Linked DNA regions of Homo sapiens: region 2 is linked to region 1. Evidence: fine-mapped expression QTL. Tissue or cell type: lymphoblastoid cells. Region 1 holds a variant in brackets; the other region holds the start of a gene. All regions are shown on one strand. Distances are between the middles of the regions.

Region 1 (8,264 bases):
CATGTCTGGCCACTTTTATTTTCTTAGTGAGGTTTGGGGAAAAGTGCCCCCAGAGGTAAGTGGAAGAAAGCAGGATGTGTTTTGGGTACAAATAGTCACCTTGAAACTGGAAAGGCTAGATTTCTAGAGAAAAATGGTAGGATTGTTAGACATCTTTTGAGACTGATGATCATGAATGCTATGTGAAACCAATGAACTTCATTCTTTGGTTTTCTCTTGCAATGTCCAATTGTTCAGAAGGTAGAGAAGAAATAATTCTCCTCTCATTCTCTTTGACAATGGAATTTGGCCTTGAGAGGAAGACAGATGTTTAAGTCCTCAGAGAATGAGGTGTGACCAGCAGACTGAGGATTGAGGGCAGAAAGGAAAGAGGGTACCGGTAGCAAGGAAGTATACATTCTGAAGGGGCAGGAGGGACGCGGAATGAGATCTGGCACCTCCTCCACTTCCTGAACCTGAAGTATGTGAGGTGTGAGCAAATAAAGAGCCTCTAATCATGAGACTTGGAAGTCAAGTGGCGGACCCAGGCGCTGCCAGGTCCTCATTAGGGCAATGAGATGGAGTTCAGAGAAGAGGTCATGCCATCTTCAATCCCCATTGGTGCAAGGCAAAGTCTGTTCCACTATACAAGGTCAAGCCTGCGTGGTTAGAGCTTCTCTTATTCCCACTCCTCCATTCCCTAATTTTAGTGCAGGGGGAGGATTTTCAAAAATTTTCAGACTAAAAACAACGATTGAGCAAGCTAATTAAGTGGTATGAGTGGTTTCAACAAAACCCCACACTTAGCGGCCAACATGGATTAAGGTGGAGGCTGCTTTTAGGTAATCCACATTGTTTTTCAAGCATCCCCTCCAGCAGTCAGGCTCAAAACACATGTTAAAGTTTTGTTTTAAGTACTCTTGGTTCAAAACACCTTTATAGACATTATCAGAAAAAGAGAAGTTGTCCAACTAACCCCAAGTTTGCTATGCCCTTTTAAATCTGATCCTCATCCTTACATATCGCAGATACTCCAAAGCTTTTCATAGCAAGTGTCCAAGACCAGGGATAGCACTGTCATAATAGTTAACATATGTTGAGTGACGACTGTGTCCCAGGCATTGTTCTAGGCAACGTTCCTATATAATTCTATTTAATGTTCAGAAAACCTTTATGAGTTTTTACCCATTTTTCAAGCTGGGAAAATGAGACAATGAAGAGTCAAGTGACTTGTCCAATGTCACCAGCTATAAGGGGCAGCGATAAGACCATCTGCAGTTTGCACTTGTAAGCATTTGGCTATACTGCTGTAGACTGCAAATATGCAGCACTCATACATTTACTCTCCTTTCCTCATCCAGAGCAGACACCACTGGCCATTTACACAACAATCCTACCAAGCTTAATCACTAATCCATTGATCTGTGAATTCCTACAAGTTGATGAGTGTGAGCACTAGAATGGAAATCTCTTTGCAGTTCCCTAGACCCTCCTTCTTTGCTTTCTGTTCTGCCTCAAACCTTGTCTCTGCTCTACTCCAAAGACTGATTCTACTCTCACTCTGGGCCTCCACACTTGATGTCCTGGTCTCTTCCCAAGTTTGACTCAGGCTAAGATTTAGCCCCAGGCCCCTCTTGCCCTTTTCCTGGTTCACTCGTCATCACATGCCTATCATGAGCTGGCTCTGTGATTCAGTCAGTGTTGATTTGTATCTGAGATGCAGAGATAATGTAGTAGCAATAGGCAGGACAGAAAAGCAAGCCTCCATAACAAACTCATTTGAAGAATCCTAAGCTTTGCACCATCAATACAAATTTCTGTGTGAAAACCATAAAGACAGAACTAACTTTACATGTTGAATCCATCGAGTCAAGTAAACTTTTAAAAGAAAATTTTAAAAAGAAAGAAAAAGAACTTTAGATGTGGTGTCAAATTCAAAAGATCTTATAGTTGGAGATATACCACTGAATGATTCTGTCAACGTCCTTTAAAATGGCAAAAAAAAAAAAAAAAGCCACCTCAATTTTAATCAACTGAATCATGAACACAAGGAAATTTTTTAATTTTGGAGGAATACTTACTATTTGTTGGGCATCAAAGATGCTAGATGGAGGGTTGAAAAGCTATAGGTTCTAACTAGCTGTGCAATACTGGAAAATCACAGTCTTTCTGAGCTATAGTTGGTCTGTGAAATGTAGTGGTTAAATTTAGGGCCTCTCAGTCCTCTTGCAGTCCCAAAGTTCTGGGTCAATGCAGTTTTTATTTCAGAAGCTCTTGTCCTTATCTGCTTTGTCTTCGAGGAGTCACTAGAGGTGCCCCAAATGGACTTGCAAGGGTCCTGTTCATTTCCACAGGTGGGAACCACGTAGAATCCTATGTTACTTTCCTTCTCTGCTCTGCCCACTATTTTGCCCACTGCTGTTCCCTGTGGGGTGCCTGGAGAGCTGGTTTTGTGGGGTCTAAAGTCTATTACCCATCATTACCACCACAGCCATTGGGCATTATGGGACATTAACATCCTCAGGATGCCAAAGCTCTTTTAGGGATTGTACGCTGTAGTGTTGGAACCTGAAGCAGGGTTGCCAAGCTCTGCCAAAGACCATTTGCTCAGAGGCACATTTGAGATGCTGTGACAACTTTCAGGGGCACCACTGAAATTCTTGATGACTTGTCAGTCTCTTCTCTATTTCCGCCCAGAACACCACGGGCTGCCTAAACACCCAAGTCCCACAAAATATAGGACTGGTCTAATGTGTCCCTGGAAACTATTGAGACAAACCCATTATCTGAGAAGCCAGGACGAGTTATAATTAGAAGCCTGATGAGTCAGAGCTCATGGGCACTAGCTCAGAAGCCCTCACTCATAAGATGACACATCAGCTTGACGTCCGCTGGAGCTCATCCTGGGCGTCAGAATTCAGCCTCGTACAAGGATGGAAGGAATCGGCTGGAGAGGTGGGAGAGTCGCTGAGCACAAGGACAGGCCTGCTGGGCCCAGCCTCTCGCCAGGAACACAGAGCATCTCACACAGGAAGCCCAGGCAAACTGATACAAAATTTCACTAGAAAAAAAAAAATTCCTTTTACCACACACAATTTCTCTTTAATTTTTCTTAAGGTGCTGCAGTTGCTAATTTAAGCCTTTCACATAATTTCCCAATATTGACTTAAATTTATGATCTTTACCACACATCCTCCCCAGCCTGGTGGATTCAGAAAGAGTAAGGGGGTTAAAATCCTATCTCCATTACCTACTGGCTTTGTGACTATGATAAATCCTGTCAAATTTTCCAAACCTTAGTCCCCTTATTTATAAAATGGGTTTTTTATGAGGATGAAAAAATAATAATACATGCAAAGCACCTGGCATACGATCTGCACAATTCATGATCAATAAATGTCAGTTTCCTTCCTTCCTGGTAGAAGTCATCAGATGGTACTAACTCTAGGTTTTCTGTCTGACACAGAACACA[C/G]CCTTCAAAGTGCTAATGCTGTTCCAGCTCAGCAGACACCTCGTCTCGGGAAAGCCATTAGAAACCCCCAAAATACTACATTTTTCTCCTGGTAAGTAGCTCACTTCCCACAACCACTTTGCATAAAGTGAGCTCAACAAATGAGTCACGCTGCTTGCAGAAGCAAATTCGGGAACCACACCCAAAACAGAGGCATCTTGACTTTTCCCAAGAAGCTGTCATTATCACCAGAAAGAGGGTTTGGGGGACCTATAGTTAGAAAACCTCAAACTCCCAAGCTACCTCTGAATTCATGTGCAAACCTAAGAGCTCATTTTTTTTTCAAGGATTTTTTTTTTTATCCACAGCATTCAGTGACAGCTGAGAGTCACTGGCCATTTATGATTATTTACTTTTTGAAAACTTCTATCATAGCATTTAAATTATAATTATGATTTTCAAGAAAAATTTCAAGAATTTATTCATTGCATAAAAATAGACACAATTTCATTTAGACCAACCCTTTCTGACCTGCAGGCTGCAGGATAAAGTAGACAGTGCATGGGATTATAGTCAGAAGACCAGGATCCAAGTGATGGTTTTGCCACTTACTGAATGATTTAGGGCAAGCTTCTGAGACTCAGAGGTTTATCCATAAAGTGGAAAGAACTATATATATTGTATGATTCAGAAATAATGAAATATATGAAAGTACATGGAAAACTTAATGCAATACAAAACGTTAGATTTTTTTAAAAAGTAATCTTTAATCCTTTATATTTACCCAATAGTCCTGGTACTAATTTTTTTGAATTAATTTTGTTGGCTCATTTCTGCATCCTTCTAAATTAATGTATATATTTTAAAGCTATTGGCTTTCAAAATGAATGGAAAACTCTGCATTCATGATTGATTGGCTAGAATAAAGACTGTTAAATAGTTTTGAATGATTATATGTCTAAAAATTTTGTTTTCCAATGTGAGATACCTTGTTTGCCAAAATGTCCACATTGTTCCCTTCTCAGTACAGAGCTCTTTTTAATGCTACTGTGCAACTCTTCCCCATTCTTTGAATCTGGGCTGGTTTGTGACCTGCTTAGGCCACTATAATGGCACAAAATTGACGCTGTGACAGTTCTGAGTCTTGGCATCAAGGGGCTGTGCACTTCCAATCTTACTCTCAGAATCTTGCCAATGCCACATGGATGAGTCTGGGCTAGCTTCTGGTTGATGAGAAACATATAACCTCATTACCAGAGACTTTAAACCCACTCAATAAATAGCTAATAGCCATACATGTGAGTGAGGCCATCTCAGATCAGGCAGCACCAGGTTGACCTATCAGCTGAGCACAAACACATGACTGAGCCCAGCCAAGATCAACTGGGTCAGACCCTAAGAATCAGCACCATCCCCTCATTTGTGAGTAATGATTGTTTAAGCTACTATATATTTTTTTTTAACACAGCAACAGATTGACTGATATACAAGGTTTCTATATCATTAAAAAATGAACTCCTCATAACATGCCAGACTAAGGTAACAGAAATGGGGTCCCTCCCTTTATAAACCTAAAGAAATGCTGGCTGAAATACATGGCCAAGTTCAAGAGACATAAAGGAAATCTCCAACGGCAAAATAAAGAGAACTCAAACATACTATATGGCAGTAAGCAAAAGCGGATATTGTCGCCTGTGGGCACATAACTTTGCACATGGTTATAGGCATTAGTGACTGGGGGACAAAGTTTTTTTTATTGTTATTATACTTTAAGTTCTGGGTTACATGTGCAGAACGTGCAGTTTTGTTACATAGGTATACACGTGCCATGGTGGTTTGCTGCACTCATCAACCCATCACCTACGTTAGGTATTTCTCCTAATGTTAAACCTCCCCTACCCCCCCACGCCCCACAGGCCCCTGTATGTGATGTCCCCCTCCCTGTGTCCATGTGTTCTCATTGTTCAACTCCCACTTATGAGTGAGAACACGCAGTGTTTGGTTTTCTGATCTTGTGATAATTTGCTGAGAATGATGGTTTCCAGCTGCATCCATGTCCTTGCAAAGGACATGAACTCACCCTTTTTTATGGCTGCATAGTATTCCATGGTGCATATGTGCCACATTTTCTTAATCCAGTCTATTATTGATGGACATTTAGGTTGGTTCCAAGTCTTTGCTATTGTGAATAGTGCCACAATGAACGTACGTGTGCATGTGTCTTTACAGTAGCATGATTTATAACCCTTTGGGTATATGCCCAGTAATGGAAGTGCTGGGTCAAATGGTATTTCTAGTTCTAGATCCATGAGGTATCGCCACTCTGTCTTCCACAATGGCTGAACTAATTTACACTCCCACCAACAGTGTAAAAGCATTCCTATTTTTCCACAACCTCTCCAGCATCTGCTGTTGCCTGACTTTTTAATGATCGCCATTCTAACTGGTGTGAGATTGTATGTCATTGTGGTTTTGATTTGCATTTCTCTAATGACTATTGAGGATGAGCATTTTTTCATATGCCTGTTGGCTGCATAAATGTCTTCTTTTGAGAAGTGTCTGTTCATATCCTTTGCCCATTTTTTGATGGGGTTGTTTGCGTTTTTCTTGTAACTTTGTTTTTAGTTCTTTGTAGATTCTGGATATTAGACCTTTGTCAGATGGATAGATTGCAAAAATTTTCTCCCACTCTGTAGGTTGCCTGTTCACTCTGATGATAGTTTCTTTTGCTGTGCAGAAGCTCTTTAGTTTAATCATTTATCAATTTTGGCTTTTGTTGCCATTGCTTTCAGTGTTTTAGACATAAAGTCTTTGCCCATGCCTATGTCCTGAATGATATTGCCCAGGTTTTCTTCCAGGATTTTTATGGTCCTAGGTCTTATGTTTAAGTCTTTGATCCATCTTGAATTGATTTTTGTATAAGGTGTAAGGAAGGGGTCCAGTTTCAGTTTTCTGCATATGGCTAGCCAGTTTTCCCAACACCATTTATTAAATAGGGAATCTTTTCCCCATTGCTTGCGTGTCTTAGGTTTGTCAAAGATCAGATGGTCGTAGATGTGTGGTGTTATTTCTGAGGTCTCCGTTCTGTTCCATTGGTCTATATAGCTGTTTTGGCACCAGTACCATGCTGTTTTGGCACCAGTACCATGCTGTTTTGATTATTGTAGCCTTGTAGTAATGTTTGAAGTCAGATAGCGTGATGCCTCCAGCTTTGTTCTTCTTGCCCAGGATTGTCTTGGCTATGCAGGCTCTTTTTTTGTTCCATATGAAGTTTAAAGTAGTTTTTTCCAATTCTGTGAAGAAAGTCAGTGGTAGCTTGATGGGGATAGCATTGAATCTATAAATTACTTTGGGCAGTAATGCCATTTTCATGATACTGATTTTTCTATCCATGAGTATGGAATGCAAGAACAAACAAACAAAACCTTTCTAATGTCAAAGCATTTTCCCTTTCATATCTTTCTTTAATGGTATATTTGCAGCTGTTTCCTGTTAATCCTTTGTCTGTCTGACTTCCTTCTTTAGGGTGATGGGATCCTTAAGACAAGCACAGAGTATGTCCTGCTGTGGTGTCCTGCAGGACAGGCCACACTCTGGCCCATTAACGGTGTTTGATGTGACGATGCACATGAGCCCATGGAGGTCTGTGCCTCAGGCCCCGTGGGTGTTTGCAGGTTGAAGATGGAATGATACACGCCATCTCTGAGATTTTTATTTGCTCAGACCTTCCCCTGTTCTGGCCCAAACCCACTTAATTCTGTCTAATAAGTGGTGGTGGGTTTTGGGGGGCCTAGTTTGTTTGTGTCCTCTCTTATTTCCTTGAGCATTGGTTTGTAGTTCTCCTTGAAGAGGTCCTTCACATCCCTTGTAAGTTGTATTCCTAGGTATTTTATTCTCTTAGTAGCAATTTTGAATGGGAGTTCACTCATGATTTTGTTCTCTGTTTGTCTGTTATTGGTATATAGGAATGCTTGTGATTTTTGCACATTGATTTTGTATCTTGAGACTTTGCTGAAGTTGCTTCTCAGCTTAAGGAGATTTTGGGCTGAGACGATGGGGTTTCCTAAGTATACAATCATGTCATCTGCAAACAGAGACAATCTGACTTCCTCTCTTCCTATTTGAATACGCTTTATTGCTTTCTCTTGCCTGATTTCCCTGGCCAGAACTTCCAATACTATGTTGAATAGGAGTGGTGAGAGAGGGCATCATTGTCTTGTGCCAGTTTTCAAAGGGAATGCTTCCAGTTTTTGCCCATTCAGTATGATATTGGCTGTGGGTTTGTCATAAATAGCTCTTATTATGTCGAGATACGTTCCTTCGATACCTAGTTTATTGAGAGTTTTCAGCATGAAAGGCTGTTGAATTTTGTCGAAGGCCTTTTCTGCATCTATTGAGATAATCATGTGGTTTTTGTCATTGGTTCTATTTATGTGATGGATTATATTTATTGATTTGCGTTATGTCGAGCCAGCCTTGCATCCCAGGGATGAAGCCAACTTGATTGTGGTGAATAAGCTTTTTGATGTGCTGCTGGATTCGGTTTGCCAGTATTTTATTGAGGATTTTCGCATTGATGTTCATCAGGGATATTGGCCTAAAATTCTTTTCTTGTTGTGCCTCTACCAGGCTTTGGTATCAGAATGATGCTGGCCTCACAAAATGAGTAAAGGAGGATTCCCTCTTTTTCAATTGATTGGAATAGTTTCAGAAGGAATGGTACCAGCTCCTCTTTGTACCTCTGGTAGAATTCAGCTGTGAATCTGTCTGGTCCTGGACGTTTTTTGGTTGGTAGGCTATTAATTATTGCCTTAATTTCAGAACCTGTTATTGG
Region 2 (8,000 bases), 110 kb before region 1:
CGAAACCTCACTTGGGTGGCCACATGTCACCTAGAGCCACACACTGGGTTTCAGTTCAAGACCCATGTCAGCCTCCTACCCAGGGTCGCACAACCTACTAATGAGCATGTGAGGAGTGGGTCTCTGGGTCTGTGCATGTGAAATGCTTGCCTGGTCAGAGTGAGAGCTCCTGTAATGCTGCTTTCCTAATATTCAGGCAGAGGGCATTGCCCTAACTTGTCCTGTAGACAAGCAACCACCTCTCTCTTTATTCCAAGCCTGTAAATCAGAGCATATCTGGGAGGGCAGCTGGACTCTGATAAGGGATGTGATTTATTTTAGTTACAAATAACTTGGTTGGCATCTCTGATATCTGTGGCCAAACCTGGGGAGAGACAGGCCAGGGCAGGGCAGCCAAGAGTCCACAGCCTGCCGGGGATGGAGAGAGAAGCCACCCATGCAAGAGTTCACTTATGCTGGCCACAGGGGACAGGTAGTGTGGGAGAGCCACGTATAGCTTCCAAAGTCCTCCAGACACGTAATGAATTGAAGGAGCATAAGCATTGGAGTCTAACATGGGAGGATGTTAGATAATGCGGAAATCCCAACTCCACCACTGGATCCTGGGGCAAGTCATGCCATCTCCACAAGTCTCGATCTCTTTATCTAGAAAATGGAGTTAAAGAGAGTGCTAGGTGTATTGGGCTGTTGGGAGGCTTAGATAAGATATCCTGTGCTACCCCCGGCTTCACATCTAGTATAGAGTCAGTGCTCACTGAGCAGTATTTCCTAGAGACTCAGGACTTAGGACCCTGCTTTACACAGGACCATATGGTACCACAGCAGAGCATCAGGTTTTTAAAACTTTGGTGCTCCTGACCATCTAGCGATGTTCCAGGAGGTGCTAGAAGCCCCAGGACAATACAGAGAATCATTGTCGAACACCAACATTGCTATATGGTCAAAAATATATATCATTATTATTGTATTAAACTCAAATTGGGTATATTGTAGAGTAATATATAAAACTGTAATGAGTCTGTAAGGTAGTATTTAAGGTGTGAAACAAATGTTGTTACCCCAGTAGACCACACCCTCCCCACCCACTGCAGGGGGTGGGGTTGAGGCTCCCACAGTCCTCATGATAGAGATACATGAGAGAAATGCCCTGCCCTAATATCTTAACAAGTCGCAGAGAGGGGAAGTCACTAGTCCCTCTCTTTCAGATTTTCTAAATGATCCTTAGAGTTCCCATCTCTGAGTCTATGACAATGAGTCAGGAAATAGTTCCTGAATGAATGGAAGGGAATCTGTCATGAACTAAGAATTTCATGCTGTCCAGCATCCCCTCCTTTGTGGGGAAATTTGGGAAAAAACAAATGGAACATTTTCCTACTGGCTGCCAGCCTCCCACACAAGGACTTGTCACCATGCCTTTGCAGCAAGTAGATGTCCAATGTGTAAATGGGGAATACCTGAATTAGTTGATGCTAGCCCCAACAGAGATGAAGCTTTGCCTCTTTGCTCCTTCACATGGGAAAACACAGCTAAAGTTCTAACTCCCAGCAGGGGGCGGAGTCTCTAATGCTCAATTAGAGAGAAGGGAGCAGAAAGGTGTGTGCCAGCCCTAAGACCCAGGGCTCTCAGACGCTCTCCTCTTTCTCAACACCAGGCATGCAATTCCCAAGCAAAGATCCCCTCACCCAGTCTATCATTGTTGGACATTTGGGTTGGTTCCAAGTCTTTGCTATTGTGAATAATGCCACAATAAACATACATGTGCATGTGTCTTTATAGCAGCATGATTTGTAGTCCTTTGGGTATATACCCAGTAATGGGATGGCTGGGTCAAATGGTATTTCTAGTTCTAGATCCCTGAGGAATCGCCACACTGACTTCCACAATGGTTGAACCCTAAAACTTAAAGTATAATAATAATTAAAAAAAAAGATCCCCTCACCCACAGAGACAAGGAGATGCATGTGCATGAAGGACTCATCCCCCCTGGCCTCCACCAAGGGCCACTTTCTTCCTCCTGCACAAGACCCCGAATTCAAGATATCTGTTCCCCAACTCAGAGTTTCTGGGTCCAATGTCACTTAACTACATTTGGCCATTTCTCCACTTTTTGCTTTCCCATACAAAGACTGGACTCCTCCTCAAAGCCTTGCTCCTTTCCAAAGTTTCCTCGTGGTTGTCCAGAGTCCACCACTCCCCAGAATGGGGCAACAAGAGCTCCTTTCCTTCCCCTTTCCTCCTTCTCCCCTTCGCCACCCACACCATGCCCAGCCCCAAGCCCTCTGACAAAGTCATGTCTCCTTTCCAAGTCCCAGTTCCTGCCAAACAACTTTACAAGCACATGAAAGCGAGGGCCGGGGCAGTTATTGCTACTGGCACTTCATTGTACTTCCTCTAAATGATGCTGCGCAAAGGGGCCGTGGAAACACGGGGCAGGAGGGAGACTGCGGGTCTCTGGGAGAACCTCAAGGGTTAGGACAGTGCCAAATATTTGGAAGTGGGGCCTTTTAGAAGGAACGGGGAGACAGGTTGGAAGGAGTCAGGAGTCAGAATGCCCAAAGACAAAGCAGAAGATGGCACTGGTAGGTAACATACAAATAAACTTCCCTAGAGACTATAGGGAAACCACCAGGGCCCTCTTCTTTCAGGCCAGGCCCAGGGCTCTCCCTGATCTCCAGCTTGACTCTTCTCTCCCATCCTGAATGTTTCCACTTTTCAAGGGCTTATTTGAGCTCCAGTCCCTTTTGGAACTTTCCCTAAGGCCTAGAGTCCACCAAAATCCTTCCCTCCCTGAAATCCTTCCAAGTTCGTCCATCTTATACAGTCTAACATATTCTAAGCCTAGGCTTTGGAGCTCAGTGGAGCTGGGTTTCCATCCAGCACTGCTCCTGGCTATGTGAATGCCAGCAAGTCACTTAACGTCTCTAAGCATCAGTTTTCCTCCTGTCAAACAGGCCTGATAACAGGAAGCTTCTTACTAGGCCATTGTGAGGGTAGAATGAGATAACACATGGAAAATATTTAACATAATGCCTGGCACAGTGAAAATATACAGTAAATGGTAGCTAGCACTGTATTCATTTTTTTTTTTTTAACAGAGTCACGCTTTGTCACCCAGGCTGGAGTGCAATGGCATAATCTTGGTTCACTGCAACCTTCACCTCCTAGGTTCAAGCAATTCTCCTGCCTCAGCGTCCCAAGCAGCTGGGACTACAGGTGTGCACCACCACACCCTGCTAATTTTTGTATTTTTTGTAAAGATGGGGTTTCACCATGTTGGCCAAGGCTGGTCTCAAACTCCTGACCTTGGGTAATTTGCTGCCTCAGCCTCCCAAAGTCCTAGGATTACAGGCATGGGCCACCATGACAGGCTGTGTTGTTGCTATCATTATTATTATTATTTCAGCTTCAGTAGTATAAATCCTAGATCCCCAAATCCCCACCTAGCAAAGACCTCTCACTCACACAGAAAGGGAGATGCATATGCACAGAGAACTCATCCTGCCTAGCCTCCACCTAGGGTCACTTTCTTCCTACTGCAGAAAGTAGGAAGATAGAGAAAGCAGAAAGTAATTCAAGATACTTTATACTGGGTACTCAATCTAAACTACCTGGGTGAGACTGTGTGTTTCAATTTCTCAGTACTCCCGTGGAACTGGGTTAATAAATATTTGCTGAGTAGAATTTACTGCATGCAGGCTGAGCTGTCTTAATGACCCAGCTGGCACTTCTTAAAAGAAAGATTAATTTTGGCCAGCGATAAGCAAATCGGCCATGTAATTATCTGTACATACATAGACAAAGAAAGAGAATGCTTGGAGTTGAGCCGTGCTAGAATATACCTTACACGCAGCCCCTCCCCTCCATAGCCACCACAAAGCACTGACCCTGTTTGGATGAGATATTGGAGCCCTAGCTCCAGGGTCCCTGATGTTGCCCTGGTATCAAGGCTCTTCTCTCTGCTCTGAGGCTGCCAGGCAGGGAATATAAGCCACCTTACTGTTGAGATTTCCCCACACTGATTGGCAGAAGCAGGAGGTGGTGAGGACCAAGCAGCTGGTCCAGTGGTTGCCTCTCATATTCATGCTCCCTATCCCAGGCTGGAATCTCATGGAGACCCAAGACCTCACCGCAGAGCTGGTTCAAGCTTCCACAGCGCTAAGGTGGCAGTGACACTGCGGACTGTAAGCTTTGGAACAAGGCTCAGTGGGGAGCTGGGAGAACCCAGGACCCCTTTCTGGAAAACCCATTGCCAGCTAGTCTCACACTTGGAATTGTGATCCCTTCTGTGACCACCTTGATAACAGCCACTCGCCCTGTTCCAGCCCCAGTCTCTGCCCCGCCCAGCTCTGCCCTGCCTAGACACAGCCCGGTGGGGCTTGGCGAGCCCTTGGGCACAGGAGCCTGTTAGTCCAGACAACGACTGTGCGCATCCGGGAGAACGGTTACTTTCTGCCATGTGCTGCAGCTCTAGCGACCTCGCCCAAAACTGCGCGCCGGCAGCCTGCCCAACAAACTTTCTTCTCTTTCTCTTTTTCTTTCAACCAAATGGTGCTTCCACAGACACATTCTCCAACGGTTTAGCGCAAATCCCAGCCCTGCTTTCCGGAGCCCAATGCACTTCGCAGACAGCTCACTTGACTCCAGTCCCCCAGGGCCGACTCAGCCGGAGGGGCTGCCGCCGGGTCCGCGCTGAGCACCCCGCACCCATCTTGCTGCCCAGGCTGCGGCGGGCACTCACCGATCTGCGCCAGGCTCAGCGGCACGAGGCAGAGTCCCCAGGCTGCGTGCCACCAAAACTTGTCCATGGTGTCCGGAGCGAACGGAGGGCGCGGGCGAAAGGAGCTGGAGGATCCCTGGGCGCGGGGCAGGGGCCGGCGGAGGACGGGACGAGGATGGCGGACCGAACCTGGCAGAGGCTGGGGTCCGCTGGGCAATGAGGCTGCCTCGGAAGTTGGCTGCAGTTTTTATTCGAGGTTGAAAACAGTGACCTAAGACGGAGGGAGGGAGCGAGCGAAGGACACACCCAAGCAAGGGGGGCTGTGACTAAGCAGCCCGCAGAGGTTTTAAGAAGTAGCAGCCCTCCCGGGCGGGCCCCTCTGCCCCCGCCCCGTGCTCTGCTGAGGCTGTAAATAATCGGGGCTGCCAGGGACGTGGGTCGGGGAACCTGGAGTGTCGCGGGGTGCCTGTGCCTCCGAGCCCCACTGGCCCCTGCGCCCAGAGACGCACTGGCTTTCTTCTCCCGCTGGCCCCGCGGCGTCAGGACAGAGGATGACCGAACCGTAAAACCTTGCACCATTGGGTTCAGCCTTTGGCCTCTCCTTTCCCGCTAAATTTCTCTGAATCCGGCTGGAGCAAGATCTCTGGGTTTCACAGGATGTTGGATATCCTGGGAGAGGAGCTGGAGAGAGGGCGAGGTCTTGCCCTGGGTGGCGCAGTGCCTCCGTGCCCACAGTGGGGAGTGAGGGGTGGGGAGTTGGTGAATCTTCCAAGTGGAAAGAGGGAGAGCTCATTCTTTTTCCCCTCAATAACAAGTCCACATGGCTTGAATGAATTTTAGCTTCTTGGCAGAACAGCTCAGGGAAAGCTACTGATGGCCTGTCATAGGGCTGGCATTTGGCTCAGCTAACCCATGTGTTCAAGCCAGTGTGAATGGGCACCTCTCTCCACACACATGCTCATTCATCCTCCTAAATATCCTTCCATCCGCCCATCCATCTATCCACCCATCTTTCCTTATGTCCTTCTGGGGCTCTCACATCCATCCATCCTCCTGTCCATCCACTAACCACTTAGGTCCATCTATCATCCCACTCATTCATTCATCCAACCACACACCTTTTAATTTATTCAACCACCTATTCTTCTATTCATCTTCCCATACAACTTCTCATCCATCATTCCACACTTCCTTTTTCACATCTCTTCATAAAACCACAACCATCCACCATCCTCTTCTCCACCCATCCACCCACATATCTGTTTATTGATATATCCACTCATTTCCCATCTGTCCAAGATCAACATATCCACCTATCATTTTATCCATTCTCTCATCCACCCATACGTTCATCTATTATTTTTGCCCCCATTATCCTCCTTTCTGTGTAAACATTAATTCATTTTCTCCCATCTTTCCTACCCAGCAGATCTTAAAGAGAGGAAGAGTTTGTAATATTCTTCAGGGGAAGCCTTTTGAGATTGAAATATCATACTTTGAATGATAACTCTATATCTATCTATAATATACTATGGTTTAATGTTTGGAAATCAAACGCAGTATTTATTTGTCATGTGAACTACTAAAAGTAAATCTGCATGGACTTCTTGCCTGGTGAGTTACACAGAAAATGAAAGTGATTATCAGTGGCTGTGGCAAGATGAAAGGAACCATGCCAGGACTTCTGAGGGAAGGTAAGATTTTGTTATTTATTTCAAGAAATTGAAAAGTTGAGAGAAATGCACCCAGCCATCCCCCTATGCATTCATTCATCAGACATGTAATGAGTGTTGTGGGGTATCGAGGTAAATAAGACCTGGCGCTATCTTCAGAGCCCTCACCCTCTGGTACGGAATAAAACTCACAAGCAGGCCATTACCATGCAAGGTGAAATATGCTGCAAAATGTGTGTGTTTGGGGTGCTACCATTCCTAGAGAAGGGAGTCACACTCTCTCCTGGAGAACACCAGGCAGTCTTCACAGGGGAAGTGATATTTGAGGCAGGCCTCAAAGGAAAAGGAGGAGGAATTCTTCAGATGAAACTACAGGGACAAGTAAGTCATCCACAGGCAGTACAGTGTAGTGACGAACAGCATGGATTCAGGAGCTAGAACACCTAGATCCAAACCCTATTATGGCTGCTTCTTAGTTGTGTGACCTTGCCTAAGGCAATTAGCTCAATTTGCTCAAGTATAAAATGGGCTTAATAATAGTATCTATTATTACTATTACAATTCTATTACTTCATAGAATTGGTGAGGATTAAATGACTCAAAAGCCCTGCATGTATTAAGCCGTAGATTTATGTCTACATATGCATGCAGTAAGCACTTTAAATAAGTGTTTGCTATCATTACTAAAAGCAAAATTGTGTTTGAGCATAGAAAAGTGAAAGAACATGGCTTGTCCAGAGAATAGAGAGCAATGTGAGCTGATCTGAACATAGATCAGATGAAGGGGCTGGGGGAAGATAGCAGACATGAGGTTACAGGTATGGGGACTACAAGGTGTAAGCTATGCCAGGGAGTTTGAACTTGACCCTGTAGGAAATAAGGAGGCAACGTACTTAGTTAAAATTATTATCATTGTTATGTTAAAATATGCATAACATAAAATTTACCATTTCACCCATTTAAAAGTGTTTATAGCAGTGACGTGTAGTACTTTAACAATATTGTGCAACCACTACCACTGTCTAGTCCGGTATAAATTTTTCAGTTGTGGAGATTCTGTTTGACTAAAGACTACTCCTCTTGCATTTTCAGGAAGAGTGTTTGGGACTGAAAAATCCTTGTCTGGATCTAGTCCTCAGCCACTCAGAAGCTGGCATGCCATGACTCAAAGAGCCGCCCGTCTGGAATGAAGACAGTGACCCGTAACTCCCACCTGAAGAGCAGGTGCTTGGAAAATGCTGCCAGTCCGCAGGAAAAAGTTGTTACTGCTGCTGTCTGTGACCAAGAGGACACTTTATTTCTTGAAACAACTGGGGGCAAACTGGCTCCCAGATAAGGCTTCAGTCCCTACTCATGTGAGGAAACCAGCCCTGGTAGGTTCCATGCACAAGAATACAGGACAAGGAGCAGCTTTTTTCACCTCATGCAACCTCCAGGGATTTCAGCTTCCTTTTCTTGGAGCAAGAAAGTGAAGTGACGTGGGGAGTCACTAGGAACAATGTCTGTCTTACTGTGTTTCATGGAACCTGGAGGTTCCTTAGAGACCCCTCAGAAGCAGACCTAGTGGTCAGAGTAAAAGCTGAGGAGTAAGCTGTGCCTCTCCCTCCCCA

Direction of the effects. Positions count from the first base shown, and alleles are read on the strand shown. Sizes are in standard deviations (SD) of each study's normalised expression.
For the expression in lymphoblastoid cells of the gene that starts at base 4,938 in region 2, allele G in region 1 goes with a higher level than allele C (moderate effect, 0.58 SD a copy in TwinsUK).

The links. PIP is the estimated chance that this variant, and not a neighbour inherited with it, causes the effect.
Region 2: CD44 starts here. The variant in region 1 is fine-mapped to the expression of CD44 in lymphoblastoid cells (TwinsUK, PIP 0.95).

Annotation. Positions count from the first base shown.
Region 1 is chr11:35,025,447-35,033,710 of GRCh38, reverse strand. It overlaps LOC105376626 (a long non-coding RNA gene), which reads left to right. Exons shown (of 4, transcript XR_001748180.2): 3 at 3,446-3,542. Among named protein-coding and RNA genes, the nearest start is that of MIR1343, 88 kb to the right of the region's middle. RefSeq lists enhancers at 3,417-3,536, 2,499-3,698. The variant C/G (reference allele first, on the strand shown) is at 3,452.
Region 2 is chr11:35,136,109-35,144,108 of GRCh38, reverse strand. It overlaps CD44 (CD44 molecule (IN blood group)), which reads right to left and starts at 4,938. Exons shown (of 18, transcript NM_000610.4): 1 at 4,739-4,938. The coding sequence starts at 4,805. It overlaps CD44-DT (CD44 divergent transcript), which reads left to right and starts at 6,077. Exons shown (of 3, transcript NR_120528.1): 1 at 6,077-6,411; 2 at 7,483-7,763. RefSeq lists enhancers at 3,541-4,041, 5,209-5,773 and a silencer at 5,229-5,298.